Linked DNA regions of Homo sapiens: region 2 is linked to region 1. Evidence: fine-mapped expression QTL. Tissue or cell type: blood mononuclear cells. Region 1 holds a variant in brackets; the other region holds the start of a gene. All regions are shown on one strand. Distances are between the middles of the regions.

Region 1 (8,099 bases):
TGTCAGTGTCAGCCCTGTATTGTATTTGATTATCTCCTGAATAAAGTTATGATATTATATCTTAGGATTTTAGTCATTTTCCTTGGGCAAAGATTGAAAAAGAACATTGAAGGCTATATGGGTAAGGAGCGGGGAACTGAGTGGATCCAAATAGAAACAGATACATGATGCTTATGCAAAGAGTAAGAAGTAGACATGCCAGCTTGCCTACATCAAGTCTTAGAGCCTTCATTTTGGAAGAGTACAGTGGATTAAATTTGGGCTTGCTCTTGAAGAACTATAATCTCCAGAGGAGTGCTAGATACTCAGGCAGGTAGGGAACTATTTTCTCACTATGGGTATCAGTGTGGGAGTTATAATAAAGCAGCTGAGGCTGGGAGCAGTGACTCACACCTGTAATTCCAGCACTTTGGGAGGCCAAGGCAAGAGGATCACTTGAGCCCAGCTGTTCGAGACCAGCCTGGGCAACGTAGCAAGACCCCTGTCTCTGTGAAAAAAAATTTTTTTTTTTTTTTTTTAGACAGAGTCTTACTTTGTTGCCAGGCTGGAGTGCAGTGGTGTGATCTCAGCTCACTGCAGCCTCCGCCTCCCAGGCTCAAGCAATTCTTGTGTATCAGCCTCCCTAGTAGCTGGAATTAACAGGCATGCACCACCATGGCCAGCTAATGTTTGTATTTTAGTAGAGACAGGGTTTTACTATGTTGGTCAGGTTGGTCTCAAACTCCTGACCTCAAGTGATCCGCCCACCTTGGCCTCCCAAAGTGCTGGGATTACAGGCATGAGCAACCACACCCAGCTGAAAAAAATTTTTTTAATTAGCAAGCGTGATGGTATGTGCCTGTAGTGCCAATTTCTCAGGAGGCTGAGGCAGGAGGATCACTTGAACCCAGGAGGTCAAGGCTGCAGTGAGCCATGATGGCACCACTGCACTCAGCCTGGGTGACAGAGTGAGACCTTGTCTCAAAAAAAAAAAAAAAAAAAAAAAAGGCAGCCAGTGGCCAGCTCAGTTATAGGAAAGGACACAAGCCACTTGTGTTCCTGGTTCCCTTGGTGTGGTTTGAGAGCTACATTTTTCTCTAAAAGCAGAGGTTTGGAGGAGATTCCCCCTGAGGAACCAAGTTCAACAGTCTACTTAGCTTAGAACAAGGCAGAGTCCTGGCTGGTGTCAAAATAGGGGACTGTGGACAGAAACAGAAGGCCTCTACCTTTATTTAGAAGAGCCTACTCAGTTTCTGAAACCACTTTCCAAGGAAATTGTCTTGGGGTGATGGTGTGGATTTATTTACAAGACAATTAATGTCTTTGACTCAACTTTTTTTTCTCTTTTTTTTTTTTTTTTTTTTTTTTTTTTTTGAGACGGAGTCTCGCTCTGTCGCCCAGGCTGGAGTGCAGTGGCGCAATCTCGGCTCACTGCAATCTCTGCCTCCTGGGTTCAAGTGATTCTCCTGCCTCAGTCTCCTGAGTAGTTGGGACTACAGGCACCCACCACCACGCCTGGCTAATTTTTGTATTTTTAGTAGAGACAGGGTTTCACCATATTGGCCTTGCTGGTCTCGAACTCCTGACCTTGTGATCCGCCCGCCTCGGCCTCCCAAAGTGCTGGGATTACAGGCATGAGCCACTGCACCTGGCCAAAAAAATTTTTTTTAATTAGCTGTGCATAGTGGCATGTGCCTACATTTCCAGCTACTCAGGAGGCTAAGGTGGGAGGACTGCTTGAGTCTGGGAGGTTGAGGTTACAGTGAGCTATGATCATGTCACTGTATTACAGCCTGAGTGACAGCAAGATTCTGTCTCAAAAAAAAGAAAAAGGAATAGAGTTATGGAAAAAGCAGCGAAGACAGAGAAAAGGAAAGAAGCACTATGGGAAGGCACAGAGTTAAGAATGGGCAAATCATGTACCAAGGAGAGCTTTCATTTCAAGTGAACAAAATTTGAAACAAATATCCTATAGCTTCAATCGAGAATCTGGAGAGCTGGGGTTTGAGAAACATTTCAATTTCGACTGCCTGAGAAATGGCTTCCAAGGCAGTGGTCCTCACCCTGGCTCTCTAAATGGCATGGGGATGGAGAGTGAGCTATTTCTTGTATTCTTAAAAAGCCTAAAGAAAATGGGCTGGGCACAGTGGCTCATGCCTGTAATCCCAGCATTTTGGGAGGCGGAGGTGGGCAGATTGCCTGAGCTCGGGAGTTAGAGACCACCCTGGGCAACATGGTGAAACCCCATCTCTACTAAAATAAAAAAATTAGCTGGGTGTGGTGATGCGTGCCTGTAGTCCCAGCTACTCAGGAGGCTGAGGCACGAGAATTGCTTGAGCCCCGGGAGGCGGAGGTTGCAGTGAGCCAAGATCGTGCCACTTCACTCTAGCTTGGGCTACAGAGTGAGACTCTGTCTCAAAAAAAAAAAAAAGAAAAGAAAATGGAACATTTGCTTGCGACAGTTCTCCACACACTTTTTTTTTTTTTTTTTTTTGAGATGGAGTTTCGCTCTTGTTGCCCAGGCTGGATCGTGCAATGGCGCAATCTTGGTTTATTGCAATCTCTGCCTCCTAGGTTCAAGTGATTCTCCTGCCTCAGCCTCCCAAGTAGCTAGGATTACAGCATGCGCCACCACGCCCAGCTAATTTTGTATTTTTATTAGAGATGAGGTTTCTCCATGTTGGTCAGGCTGGTCTCGAACTCCCGACTTCAGGTGATCCACCTGCCTCAGCCTCCCAAAGTGCTAGGATAACAGGCGTGAGCCACCACCGCGCCCGGCCCTGCACAAACTTTTTTTTTTTTTTTTTTTTTGAGACGGAGTCTTGCTCTGTCACCTGGGCTGGAGGGCAGTGGCCCGATCTCAGTTCACTGCAACCTCCGCCTCCTGGGTTCATGCCCTTCTCCTGTCTCAATCTCCCAAGTAGCTGGGACTATAGGCGCCCACCACCACGCCCGGCTAATTTTTTGTATTTTTAGTAGAGACGGGGTTTCACCGTGTTAGCCAGGATGGTCTCGATCGCCTGACCTCGTGATCCGCCCGCCTCAGCCTACCAAAGTGGTGGGATTACAGGTGTGAGCCACTGCGCCCGGCCCAAACTATTTTTTAAAAAACTTCATTGGCTTAAAACTAGAGCACATGCAGGCTGGGCGTGGTGGCTCACGCCTGTAATCCCAGCACTTTGGGAGGCCGAGGTGGGTGGATCACCTGAGGTTGGGAGTTTGAGACCAGCCTGAGCAACATGGAGAAACCCCGTCTCTACTGAAAATACAAAATTAGCCGGGTGTGGTGGCACATGCCTGTAATCCCAGCTACTAGGGAGGCTGAGGCAGGAGAATCGCTTGAACCCAGGAGGCAGAAGTTGCGGTGAGCCGAGATCGCGCCATTGCACTCCAGCCTGCGCAACAAGAGCGAAACTCCATCTTAAAAAACAAACAAACAAACAAAAACAACTAGAGCACATGCTTTGTAAAAATACTCAGAACAGAATTATATACAGTAAAAAGTAAAAGATTGAACCATGCACCCTCAGACACCCCCCACACAAATACCCTGTTACTCCAATCTACCTCCCCAGAGTAACCAGAGTGATTTGGTGTGTAGATCACTGTGTGTCAGATCTGTTTCTATAAATATGCAACCATATGTACATAAATATTAGCTAATATTAGCTGGGCATGGTGGTGCTCTGATAGCCCTAGCTACTCAGGAGGCTGAGCCTAGTAGTTAGAGGCTGCAGTGAACTATGATTGTGCCAAGGTACTCCAGCCCAGGTGACAGAGCAAGACCTTTGTCTCTAAAAATCAAATCAATAAAGAAAAAGTTTTAAAAATGTGGCTAATATTATTATTAGAGTATGGCTGTATTATCATTTAACCCTTCCCTTCACGATATTAAGGTTGTTTCCCTCTTGCCCTGTTACAAAAATGCTTCATTGGATGTCATTGCACATATATCTTGCTCAGGTGCCTTTGCTTTCTGCTGGTATTACAGTAAATCAGTATATTAGTTATTTTATGGGAAAAATAAACTTTTTTTTTTTTTTTGGAGACAGAGTCTGACTCTTGCCCAGGCTGGGAGCAGTGGCATGTTCTCGGCTCACTGCAACCTCCGCCTCCCAGGTTCAAGCGATTCTCTTGCCTCAGCCTCCCGAGTAACTGGGATTACAGGCGCGTGCCACCACATACAGCTAATTTTTGTATTTTTAGTAGAGACAGGGTATTGCCACGTTGGCCAGGCTGGTTTCGAACTCCTGACTTCAGGTGACACGCCTGTCCTCGGCCTCTCAAAGTGCTGGGATTACAGGCATGAGCCACTGCGCCCGACCAGAAAAAAATAAACTACTGATTGAGCTTATGAATGTAGTCTGGTGGAAAAAAAAACTTTCAAAACAGTTCCTTCGTAGGGGAAAAGGAACAAAAATCATGTCCACTGCGGCCTGAGGGAGCACTACAGCTGTTTCTCTTGGTGCATTCATTCTGCACATTGACTGGAGGTGGAAGACTTGTTGGAGGTGCCCTTCATACATGCTGCTCTCTATTGTGGCAAATATGGGAAGGAGCTTTGGAGGACAAGTAGAAGGGTCTGCATGAAAGTGACAGCTGAGGGGCCGGGCGCCATGGCTCACGCCTGTAATCCCAGCACTTTGGGAGGCTGAGGCAGGTGGATCACGAGGTCAAGAGATTGGGACCATCCTGGCCAACATGGCAAAACCTCGTCTCTACTAAAAATACAAAAATTAGCCAGGCGTGGTGGTGCACACCTGTAGTCCCAGCTACTCGGGAGGCTGAGGCAGGAGAATCACTTGAATCTGGGAGGCAGAGGTTGCAGTGAGCCGAGATCGCGCCACTGCACTCCAGGCCTGGCAACAGAGCGAGACTCCTTCTCAAAAAAAAAGAAAGTGACAGTTGAGGGTTAGCATCTTGGACCTTAGCTG[C/T]TCTCTTTCCCTCACACTGCTTAGAAAAGATTTGCATTTACTGCCTCCCTTCGTTCTTTCACAGTCGAACCTCTCTTTACTTGCCTCTTACCACATCTGGTAAGTCTTATAGATTCTTCCCTTGTAATGAGAGGCAAAGGAAATCACCTTCAGAACTTGGAACAGGATCAACTCTGGGACTCTTGGATAAACAAAATCTGTTCCCTGAATATTTTCAGTGAAAGGTGAATATGGAGGTGTCCTGGGGAGTGACTGCATTCTTCCTCGGCCACCACAAACAGGAGACCCAGCGCCCCCTAAGGGCCAACTTTGGCATCTCCAAAGGAGAAGGGTGCCCCTCACCCTATAAAGAATCTCTCCATATTGGCTGGGCGCGGTGGCTTACGCCTGTAATCCCGGCAATTTTTGGAGGGGAGGCTGAGGCAGGCGGATCACTTGAGGTGAGGAGTTTGAGACGAGCCTGGCCAACATGGTGAAACCAGGTCTCTACTGAAAAATACAAAATTAGCCAGGTGTGGTGGTGCGCACCTGTAATTGGGAGGCTGAGGCATTATAATAGCTTGAACCTGGGAGGTGGAGGCTGCAGTAAGGCGAGGTGAGATGGGGCCACTACACTCCATCCTGGGCGACAAAGCAAGACTCTCTTTCGAAAAGAAAAAAAAAAGAATCTCTCCATATGATCCATCTTGAAGGACCTGGACTAGGTTTTGTTAAAGGAACTAGCAGGCTTCCTTATCCCTTGAGACAGCAAAAATACGAGTGAATTTACAATGGACTAAACAATGTGTAGAAATAATTTACTCTAAAAGATGGTTTGTTTTTGAGTTGCTGAGGTCCAGCCAAAGTGGCTAACTTCTGGTCTCAGGAAAAAACAACTGAAGTTTGGAGAGTCCTAAATTTACCAAGCCTGGCTAAATAGTGTGTAACCAACAGCAAATGACCTGCCTAGGATTTAGAAAAGGGTTATCTAAAGAGTAAGGTTGGCTGGGCGCTGTAGCTTATGCCTGTAATCCCAGCACTTTGGGAGGCCGAGGCAGGTGGATCACCTGAGGTCAGGAGTTTGAGACCATCCTGGCCAACATGGCGAAACCCTGTCTCTACTAAAAATACAAAAATTAGCCGGGCATGGTGGCTCGCGCCTATAGTCCCAGCTACTTGGGAGGCTGAGGCAGGAGAATTGCTTGAATCCTAGAGGCAGAGGTTGCAGTGAGCCGAGATCACACCACTGCACTCCAGACTGGGCAACAGAGTCAGACTGTGTCTCAAAAAAAAAAAAAAAAAAAGATCTATATATGATTTATTTTAAAGAATTGGCTCATTGGCTCATGTGATTATGGGAGCTGGCAAGTCTAAAATCTGTAGGGCAGGCCAGCAGGCTGAAAACAAGCAGAAGTAATGCTACAGTTTTTTTTTTTTCCAACTTTCATTTTAGGCTCAGGGGGTACGTGTGCAAGTTTGTTACATGAGTAAACTGTGTGTCACTGAGGGTTAGTGTATGAATGATCCCGTCACCCAGTTAGTGAGCATAGTACCTCCCTCCCTTCCCCTTCTAGCAGTCCCCAGTGTCTATTTCCATCTTTATGTCCGTGTGTGCTCAATGTTTAGCTCTCACTTATAAGTGAGAACTAGCGGTGTTTTGTTTTCTATTCTCACATTAATTTATTTTTCTTTCTTTCTTTCTTTTTTTTTTTTTTTTTTGAGACGGAGTCTTGCTCTGTCACCCAGGCTGGAATACAGCGGCATGATCTCGGCTCACTGCAACCTCCACCCCCTGGGTTCAAGCGATTCTCCTGCCTCAGCCTCCCGAGTAGCTGGGATTACAGGCGCCTGCCACCACGCCCGGCTAATTTTTTTGTATCTTTAGTAGAGACGGGGTTTCACCATGTCGGTCAGGCTGGTCTCGAACTCCTGACCTCAGGTGATCCACCCGTCTTGGCCTCCCAAAGTGCTGAGATTACAGGCATGAGCCACCGTGCCCAGCCCAGCCATGACTTTTTAATTTTCATTTTTTTTTTTTTTTGAGACAGAGTTTTGCTCTGTCGCCCAGGCTATAGTGCAGTGGCACGATCTCTGCTCACTGCAAGCTCCACCTACCGGGTTCACGCCATTCTCCTGCCTCAGCCTCCCGAGTAGCTGGGACTACAGGTACCCGCCACTGCGCCCGGCTAATTTTTTGTATTTTTAGTAGAGGCAGGGTTTCACTGTGTTAGCCAGGATGGTCTCGATCTGACCTCGTGATCCACCCGTCTCGGCCTCCCAAAGTGCTGGGATTACAGGTGTGAGCCACTGCGCCCGGCATGACTTTTTAATAATAGCCATTCTGACTGGTGTGAGATGGTATCTTATTGCGGTTTTGATTTGCCTTTCTCTAATGATTAGTAATATTGAACATTTTTTCCATATATTTGTTGGCAACATCTATGTCTTCTTTAGAGAAGTGTCTGTTCATGTCCTTTGCCCAGTTTTTTTGCTTGTTTGTTTTCTTTTTCTGGGAGACAGGGTCTTACTCTGTCAACCAGGCTGGAGTGCAGCTGCAGCCTCAACCTCCTTGGCTCAAAGGATCCTCCCACCACAGCCTCCCTAGTAGCTAGGACTACAGGCACGTGCCACCATGCTGGGTTTTTGTTTTGTTTTGTTTTGCAGAGACGTGGTCTCACTCTGTTGCTCAGGTTAGTCTGGAGCTCCTGGGCTCAAGCAGTCCTCCCACCTCTGCCTCCCAAAAGTGTTAGGATCACAAGGGTAAGCCACTGCAACGGGCTGAGAAAATTTTAAAATATTTGTTTCCTTTTTTTTCTTTTTTTTTTTTTTTGAGAAGGAGTTTCGCTCTTGTTGCCCAGGCTGGAGTTCAATGGCGCTATCTTGGCTCACCGCAACCTCCGCCTCCTGGGTTCAAGCGATTCTCCTGCCTCAGCCTCCCAAGTAACTACAATTATAAGTGCACCACCAGGCTCAGCTAATTTTTTTGTGTTTTTAGTAGAGATGGGGTTTTACTATATTGGCCAAGCTGTTCTTGAACTCCTGACATCAAGTGATCTGCTGACCTTGGCCTCCCAAAGTGCTGGGATTACAGGTATGACCCACTGCGCCCAGCCTTTTGAGATAATATATTTAAAGTGCCTGGCATGTGGTAGAGCTTAATTAATATTAGCCTGGGCAGGGTATGGTGGCTCATGCCTATAATCCCAG
Region 2 (8,099 bases), 24 kb after region 1:
TTCCTGACAGATCCTATGATTGACAACAACCGCTATTGCACCTTGGAATTTCCTGTGGAGGTGAACACAGTACTACATGGCTTTGCCGGCTACTTTGAGACTGTGCTTTATCAGGACATCACTCTGAGTGAGTGTCTATGGCAGTAGATGGCAGAGTATGAGGGTGTGCTTCCTGGGCAGCTTATATGTACATGTGTCATTTAGATTTATGGGGGGCCCAGTGCTCAATGAATGGAGATCTTTGTGTGATTAGAGAAGAGACCCTCTTCAGCATAGGCAAAAGTCACAGCCATGGAGACCTCTGTTTTTTCATTATTTTGTCCACACAGGTATCCGTCCAGAGACTCACTCTCCTGGGATGTTCTCATGGTTTCCCATCCTCTTCCCTATTAAGGTAGGAACTGCTTTTAAGACTCTCTAGTTAAGCAGTAACCTTTGCCTTTGGTGTTGTGCTTCTTTCCTTCTCCCAGGAAGATAGTTGACTATGACTCATGTTCTCCTGATTTCATATGCTCTTGGATCCCAGTGGTAGGTGTTGGGAGTATTTGGAGTGGCCTTCTGCCTGGCTTTCCCGCATCTACTCTGGCTACTCTTCTGTCTGTTCTCTACTTTGAGCAAGAGTCATCTTTTAAAAACTCAAATTTGATCTTATCTCTCTTGCTGTCTTTTTTTTTTTTTTTTTTTTAAAGAGACGGAGTCTCACTCTGTCGCCCAGGCTGGAGTGCAGTGGCACAATTTCGGCTCACTGCAAGCTCCGCCTCCCGGGTTCATGCCATTCTCCTGCCTCAGCCTCCCTGAGGCTGAGATTACAGGTGCCAGCCACCACACCCGGCTAATTCTTGTATTTTTAGTAGAGACGGGGTTTTACCGTGTTAGCCAGGATGGTCTCGATCTCCTGACCTCATGATCCGCCCACCTCAGCCTCCCAAAGTGCTGGGATTACAGGCGTGAGCCACCGCGCCTGGCCTGATCTTATCTCTCTTTTTTGCTTAAAACTCTTCAATGCCTTCCCATTGTCTTTAGGATAAAAGTCAAAATCTGGGACATTGCTTGTAAGACTTGATGTGATCGAGTGTTTGCTTGCCTTTGCAGCTACTGTCCCCTTGCTTACACTGCTTCAGCCTTATGGACCTTCTTTTTGTTCTAATTGTCTATCTTCTTTCCTACCTCAGGCTTTCATGCCTTTCTCTTGCCTGTAGAGTTCTTTGCTTGTCTCTTCACACAGTTAACCTATCTTCTAGGTCTTCTTTAAACATTTTTATTGTGAGATAAACTTTCTCTGATCTCCTAGACTAGGTTAGTGTTCCCTTTCATAGGTGTTTTTCTGACTCTGTACATGTTCACAGCTCTCACCACACCTTTGATTATTTGTGTTCTGATAGGCTTCAAATAACTTTCATGAGGGTTGGGACAGTCTTGTCATGTTTATCATTTTATCTCCACACCTACCTTAATACATTGCCATGTATAATTCATAGCTTCACCCTGAACCTTCCTGTCTTTCTTCTTACAGCAGCCCATAACGGTACGTGAAGGCCAAACCATCTGTGTGCGTTTCTGGCGATGCAGCAATTCCAAGAAGGTGTGGTATGAGTGGGCTGTGACAGCACCAGTCTGTTCTGCTATTCATAACCCCACAGGCCGCTCATATACCATTGGCCTCTAGCCCTGCGTGCCAAGTGTCCAGAGCCTTGGAAGCAGCTTCAGGTTCTGCTCCTGTAGTACAGAAGGTGCAGTACATCTATGGGCTGTGATTCCCCTTGCCCATCAGAGAGGAGCATTTCAATCTGCTTTCCTGCCTTACATCAAGGTGGGCAAGGGATTATAATTAATTGCAGGGCTCAAGCCACCAATCTATGAAGACCTCAGGCCAGGGGGTGAGGAATTAGTGCTGGATTTGAAGCTACGCACTCAGCCTCAAGAACTCCCTGGAATATCCCTGAGAACATGGGGTTTGAACGGATTTTCAGCCTTTTTCTGTTCTTGTTTTGATGGTTTTGTGTAAGAGGAAATACAAATAAAGTTATAGCCCTTTACTGCACGACCATGCTGCCCCCTGCCACTATTTTCCCACACCTCACTTAGACCCAGGCATGTTCAGATCTGTCCTCTTAGCCTATCCAAGACCCAAAGGGGCCTAGTTGTATTCCCTACTTAGGAAGCTGAGCAATGACTATTGTAGTCCTGGATATAGGCCTTTCTGACCAGCTACAGTGAGCTCTTGTCCATTAGAACCTACAGTTAGGCTTTTCTCTGGGGAGGAGGCATAGAGTTTGCCACCTTGGAAAAAGATGGAATAGTGAGTGAAGCCAGTTTCTCTTCTGTATTCTTGAGCTACTGCACGGGCAACTGGTTACCTCTCCTTTGTTACCTCTTGGGAAGACTGGAATCCATCCAGGAATCTCCAGCAAGAAGCTACCTGTTTTTTTTGAATAAAACCACAGGGTTACAGTTTGAAGTCCTAAGAGATCATCTAGTCCAATTTTCCATTTTACAGAGGGGGAGTTTGAAATGGGTACAATGATGTGATATTAGTATCCAAGTCAGAATTGGAAGTCAGGTCCTCCGACTCTGGCTCTCCCCATGTTATAACCAGCTACATTTTTGGTAGCTACAGTAGACCACAGAAGTGTCTAGGGGCTCCTGGAGGCCCCTGGAAAGTGAGGGTGGACATCAGTTCCTTCTTTCCGGTTAGAGGACTCAGTACTGCTACATCCAAGGAGTCACCTGAGAAACTTTCAAATTTACCCTTGCAGTGGGAAATGTGGGGGTACTGATTTGAACGGAAGTTATGACCTGTGGGAGCAGGCCATGACGATAGGGCAGAGTGTGGGCCAAGACAAGTCTGTGGCAAGATCTGCTTTTCCCTGGTCCCAAGCACCGAGGTCAGGAGAGGTGGTCGGGAAGGTTGTTTAGGTAGCCGGCTCAGAACGGGGATTTCGAGTTCAGCATCCCCGGACGTTAAACAAACGCCGCTGTTCTCTACAAAGCTTAACCTTAACGACCGACGTGACTCCTTCAGCAAATCCGAGTAGGGACGGCCAAGGATGTAAATTGTGCCTCCTCGTTGGCTCCGCCCATCGCACTGGTCTAGTCTACGCGAGCACCAGGAGTGGGGTTGGTGGCTTCTTCACTCCCGTTTTCAGTCCCGTTTTCCCCGCCCTCCGCAAGTCATTTAACCAATGAGAGAGTGATGGGCGGCTACCAAAGGACGCTTCCATTTTCTGGAGTCTCTGAGGTTAGCCAATCAATGGGAACTCGGTGGTTGCTAAGACGCATTTGAGTTTGCTCCACCCATACTTAGGACTTTAGCCAATGAGAACCTGTACTTTGGACGGTTGCCGCGAAACCAGTGAGGTTATTTCCAAAGCCGGGGAGTCTTGGCGCATGCGCAGATTGGGGAAGGTTCTGGAAGACGGCAGAGCTGCCGCCATTTTGCGGGAAGAGGAGGCTCTGTACCTGCAGTGCTGCTTTTCTTGCCTAGACTCTAGGAACTATCCGAGCTCCACTCCCCACAACATACTCAAAGGAACGGAGAGAACCGGGACCCCCCTGCGGGGACCCGGAACTGGTGAGAAACCCCAAAACCCGGTCCCCACCAGACGTCACCAATGCGTGACGTTGCTGCACGGCGCCTCCCCCCTGACGTCACGGGCAGAAAATGGCGTCACGAAGAGATTCAGGCGAACTTTTAACATTAAAAAAACCTTTGTTTGTTTTGACCTGGAAGTGTTAGCTACTTAAATGTAGCCCACTGCCACGATTTTAGAGTTGGGCACCCTCGTGGCTGTATCTTGCACCGATAAAGATGCGGTTTCTAGAATCCTGTGATTTTTCTTTCCGGGTCTCTGCAGCCGTGACACTTAGGGTCGCCCACACTGGAGAGGGAGCATCGACCCTCCGCGGCCTGAGAGGACACGCATCATCAGTTTCAGCCACTCGCACCACCATTCAGAGAGAGAGAAGGGAATTGAGCTTTCTTCCTCAATCTCTAGTCTGTCGAAGATTCATGTTCACTATGTTGACCTTTATGGGCTTTTCCCATTTAACTTTTTCAAGCACTCATTCCAGTAGGCGTATTATGATGCCACATATGAAGATTGAGCCCTGGGACACTGGCTCCCGCAGAGATTGTGCCAGTTGGTTGCCTATAGGACCTCTTTTTTTTTATTTTTTTAAGGCGGAGTGTCGCTTTGTCACCCAGGCTGGAGTGGAGTGGCGCGATCTCGGCTCACTGCATCCTGTCTCCCGGGTTCTAGCGATTCCCCTGCCTCAGCCTCCCGAGTAGCTGGGATTACAGGCGCCTGCCACAACGCCCGGCTAATTTTTGTATTTTTAATAGAGATGGGGTTTTGCCATGTTAGCCAGGCTGACCTCGAACTCCTGACCTCAGGTGATCCACCCGCCTCGGCCTCCCAAAGTGCTGGGATTACAGGCGTGAGCCACCGCGCCCGGCCTATAGGACCATTTTTTAAAGCTACACAACATGGGGAGGGTGGTCCTTCAAGTAGCTTTTATCGTTCTCATTGTTCCTCTTTTGTTAAGCTGCCTTCAGTTTGTAGGTGTTTGTGCCCAGCTAAGTGATCAGACCCTGGGGATGGCGCTACCATCACCCCTGGGGCTCCAGCTTTTCGTGAATTCTTCCCGAATTGGTCTGACAGTGGTTCTCTCTGCTCCTTTAGCAGTGGGGTCTATCTGTTGGCTTGTGCTATGACGAGGTCTAGGAACTGACGTGATTGTGGGTCTCTAATACTGTTTTTGGAGCAGGATGGAAGAAAACATACTCTATGTGGATGAGATTGAGTGGACCTTGACCCATAAGTTGGGACATGAAGAGAGCGTTTGAAAACTACCAACCTGGGCCGGGTGCAGTGGCTCACGCCTGTAATCCCAGCACTTTGGGTGGCCGAGGCGGGCGGATCACGAGGTCAGGAGATCGCGACCATCCTGGCTAACACGGCGAAACCCCGTCTCTACTAAAAATACAAAAAAAAAACAAAAAAGAAGAAAAAAGAAAAAACTACCAGCCTGAAAATGCATAGTGTTTGCTACCTTATTGCTTTTAGCACATCTAGAAAGACACTAAACCCAGTGAGATTGCAAGTTTCAAAATATTGTGTTGTATATGGCTTTGCTTAAACGGATATATTTGTTTCTGAGTGAAAACTTTTTACGTAGAGGTTTATTTGTAGAGGCTTGTAAACTTAAGTGTAAGTTTTAGTGTGTGTGTTAAGTTGTTCTTACCCCGCATTAGCACTCAACAATGAGCAGTTCTTGAAATCAAGCATTTCATTTGGAGGGGAAAAAGCAGATTGTAAAAAATAGTTCATAACAGAAAATTTGTGTAGACTTGGCAGCAAAAATGACTGAAACAGCTTGAGTATAAAAAACTTTTCTTTTTAGGCCGGGCTCGGTGGCTCATGTCTGTAATCCCAGCCCTTTGGGAGGACCAGGCAGGCGGATCACCTGAGGTCAGGAGTTCGAGACCAGCCTGACCAATGTGGAGAAACCCCGTCTCTGCTAAAAATACAACATTAGCCAGGTGTGGTGGTGCCTGCCTGTAATCCCAGCTACTTGGGAGACTGAGACAGGAGAATTGCTTGAACCTGGGAGGTGGAGGTCGCAGTGAGCCGAGATTGCGCCATTGCACTCCATCCTGGGCAACAAGAGTGAAACTCTCTCAAAAAAAAACAAAAACAAACTTTTCTTTTTAGAACTATTTTCCCATAGTGTATATTAGTCTAATACCTTTAAGCATACACTGTACATGCCTCAGATATAGGAGACTCACAATGAGGTTTAGCTAATGGGACTGATTATTTTGATAAACATATGAGAAGAACATTCATGTTCAGTGAGTATATATTTAAAAGTAGGTATCTTGGTATACTGTGTCCTTTTTTTTTTCCTTTAAAGTTAATTACAAACCATATGAGAAGTAATCTGATATAATAGATATAATGTTAGATTTGAAGTCAGAAAACCTTTCTGATCAAGAATTAGCTCCTCTGGCCAGATGTAATCCTAGTACTTTGGGAGGCTAAGGTGGGTGGATCTGTTGAGTCCGGGAGTTTGAGACCAGCCTGGGCAACATAGTGAGACCATGTCTCTACCAGAAAAAAAAAAAAAGCCCAAAATATGAAAAGTTAGCCTGGCATCATAGTGCACACCTGTGGTCCCAGCTACTGGGGAAGCTGAGGTTAGAGGATTGCTTGAGCTAGAGAGGCAGAGGTTGCAGTGAGCCGAGATTGCAACATTACACTCCAGCTTGGGCAACAGAGTGAAATCCTGTCTCAAAAAAAAAAAAAAACATTCTTCCCTTTGAGCTGTGTGACCTTCTCTGTTTTGGGGATTGAGACAGAATCTCAATCTGCTGCACAGACTGGATTGCAGCGGCATGATCACAGTTCACTGCAGCCTCAACTTCCTGGGTTCAAGCGATCCTTCCATTTCAGGCTCCTGAGTAGTTGGGACTACAGGCACGCACCACCATGCGTGGCTAATTTTTATATTTTTTGTAAAAATGGGGCCTCACTGTATTGCCCAGGCTGATTTTGACTTGGCCTCAAGCCATTCTCCAGCCTTAGCTTCCCAAAGTGCTGAGATTGCAGGCGTGAGCCACCCCCTCTGCCTGGCCCTTGAGCTATGTATGACTTTGAGCAGTTCAAAAAACGTTAGTTTTAAAAAATTTGGGTATGAATCATATATTACCTGTCTGCAGCATTTGTTACCTTTGATTGCTAAATAAATATAAAGTGTTACTGGAAGAAGTAGAAGGCCGGGCACAGTGGCTCATGCCTGTAATCCCAGCACTGGGAGGCCGAGGCAGGCGGATTACCTGAGGTCAGGAGTTTGAGACCAGCCTGGCCAACATGGTGAAACTTTGTCTCTACTAAAAATACAAAAATTAGTGGGACGTAGTGGCGGGCACCTGTAATCCCAGCTACTCAGGAGGCTGAGGCAGGAGAATCGCTTGAACCTGGGAGGCAGAGGTTGGCGTGAACTGAGATTGTGCCACCGCACTCCAGCCTGGACAACAGAGCTAGACTCCTTCTCAAAAAAAAAAAAAAAAAGCCAGGCATGGGGCTTATGCCTGTAATCCCAGCACTTTGGGAGGGCGAGGCGGTCGGATCACCTGAGGTCGAGAGTTCGAGACCAGCCTGACTAACACGGAAAACCTGGTCTCTACTAAAAATACAAAATTAGCTGGATGTGGTGGCGCATGCCTGTAATCCCAGCTACTCAGGAGGCTGAGGCAGGAGAGTTGCTTGAACCTGGGAGGCAGAGGCAATTGAGTTTACTGGTTTTTATGTATACCAATTTGATTTGGGTTTAATTTCCATTTAAGCCTTAAATTTGGCTCCAAGTAATTTTTCTCTAAGAATCTTCTCTCTCCATAACATGCTTAGCACAGTGTCTAGCAGTTGTAGGTACTGTAAGTCATAGAATCATAGTTGTAATTATTACACTTATTTAATTGTCAAAATAGGATATGGACTCTTAGGGCAACCAAGGCAGCATTGTTGCATAGTGCATTAGCTGCTTTAAAGAGGACAAAGTTCCTCTTTTTTTTTTTTTTTTTTGAGATGGAGTCTTACTCCATCTTACACCCAGGCTGGAGTGCAGTGGTGTGATCTCGGCTCACTGCAACCTCTGCCTCCCAGGTTCAAGCGATTCTCCTGTCTTAGCCTCTTGAGTAGCTGGGACTACAGGCGCCCACCACCATGCCCGGCTAATTTTTGTGTCTTTAATGGGGATGAGGTTTCACCATATCCGTCAGGCTGGTATTGAACTCCTGACCTCAGGTGATCCACCCACCTTGGCCTCCCAAAGTACTGGGATTACAGGGTGAGCCACCACGGCTGGCCAACAAAGTTCTTACAGTTATGAAAAAGTCTGATTATGATAGCCTCCTTGCATAGAAATTCCTCAGGTTTTTTTTTTTAACGGCATGATTGAGGTACATTTAATGGGCACACGATAAAACTGTATACATTAAAGTGTACACTTTCATGCGTTTTGATATGTTAAACACCCGTGAAACCATCACTCCCAAAGATTTGTTTGTTTTTGTATTTTTGAGACAGTCTCGCTGTGTC

Evidence for each region. PIP is the estimated chance that this variant, and not a neighbour inherited with it, causes the effect.
Region 2: RBM23 starts here. The variant in region 1 is fine-mapped to the expression of RBM23 in blood mononuclear cells (TOPMed, PIP above 0.99).

The regions. Positions count from the first base shown.
Region 1 is chr14:22,938,193-22,946,291 of GRCh38, reverse strand. It overlaps HAUS4 (HAUS augmin like complex subunit 4), which reads left to right. Exons shown (of 10, transcript NM_001166269.2): 10 at 1-64. All of the region lies in intron 2 of PRMT5-DT (PRMT5 divergent transcript), which reads right to left. Among named protein-coding and RNA genes, the nearest start is that of TRR-ACG1-3, 13 kb to the right of the region's middle. The variant C/T (reference allele first, on the strand shown) is at 4,914.
Region 2 is chr14:22,914,471-22,922,569 of GRCh38, reverse strand. RBM23 (RNA binding motif protein 23) reads left to right here and starts at 3,421. Exons shown (of 14, transcript NM_001077351.2): 1 at 3,421-3,571. It overlaps PRMT5 (protein arginine methyltransferase 5), which reads left to right. Exons shown (of 17, transcript NM_006109.5): 15 at 11-127; 16 at 330-394; 17 at 1,514-2,041. The coding sequence ends at 1,666. PRMT5-AS1 (PRMT5 antisense RNA 1) reads right to left here and starts at 3,114. Exons shown (of 2, transcript NR_120600.1): 1 at 1,450-3,114. RefSeq lists a silencer at 3,047-3,346 and enhancers at 3,607-3,676, 3,767-3,876, 3,947-4,116, 4,605-5,369.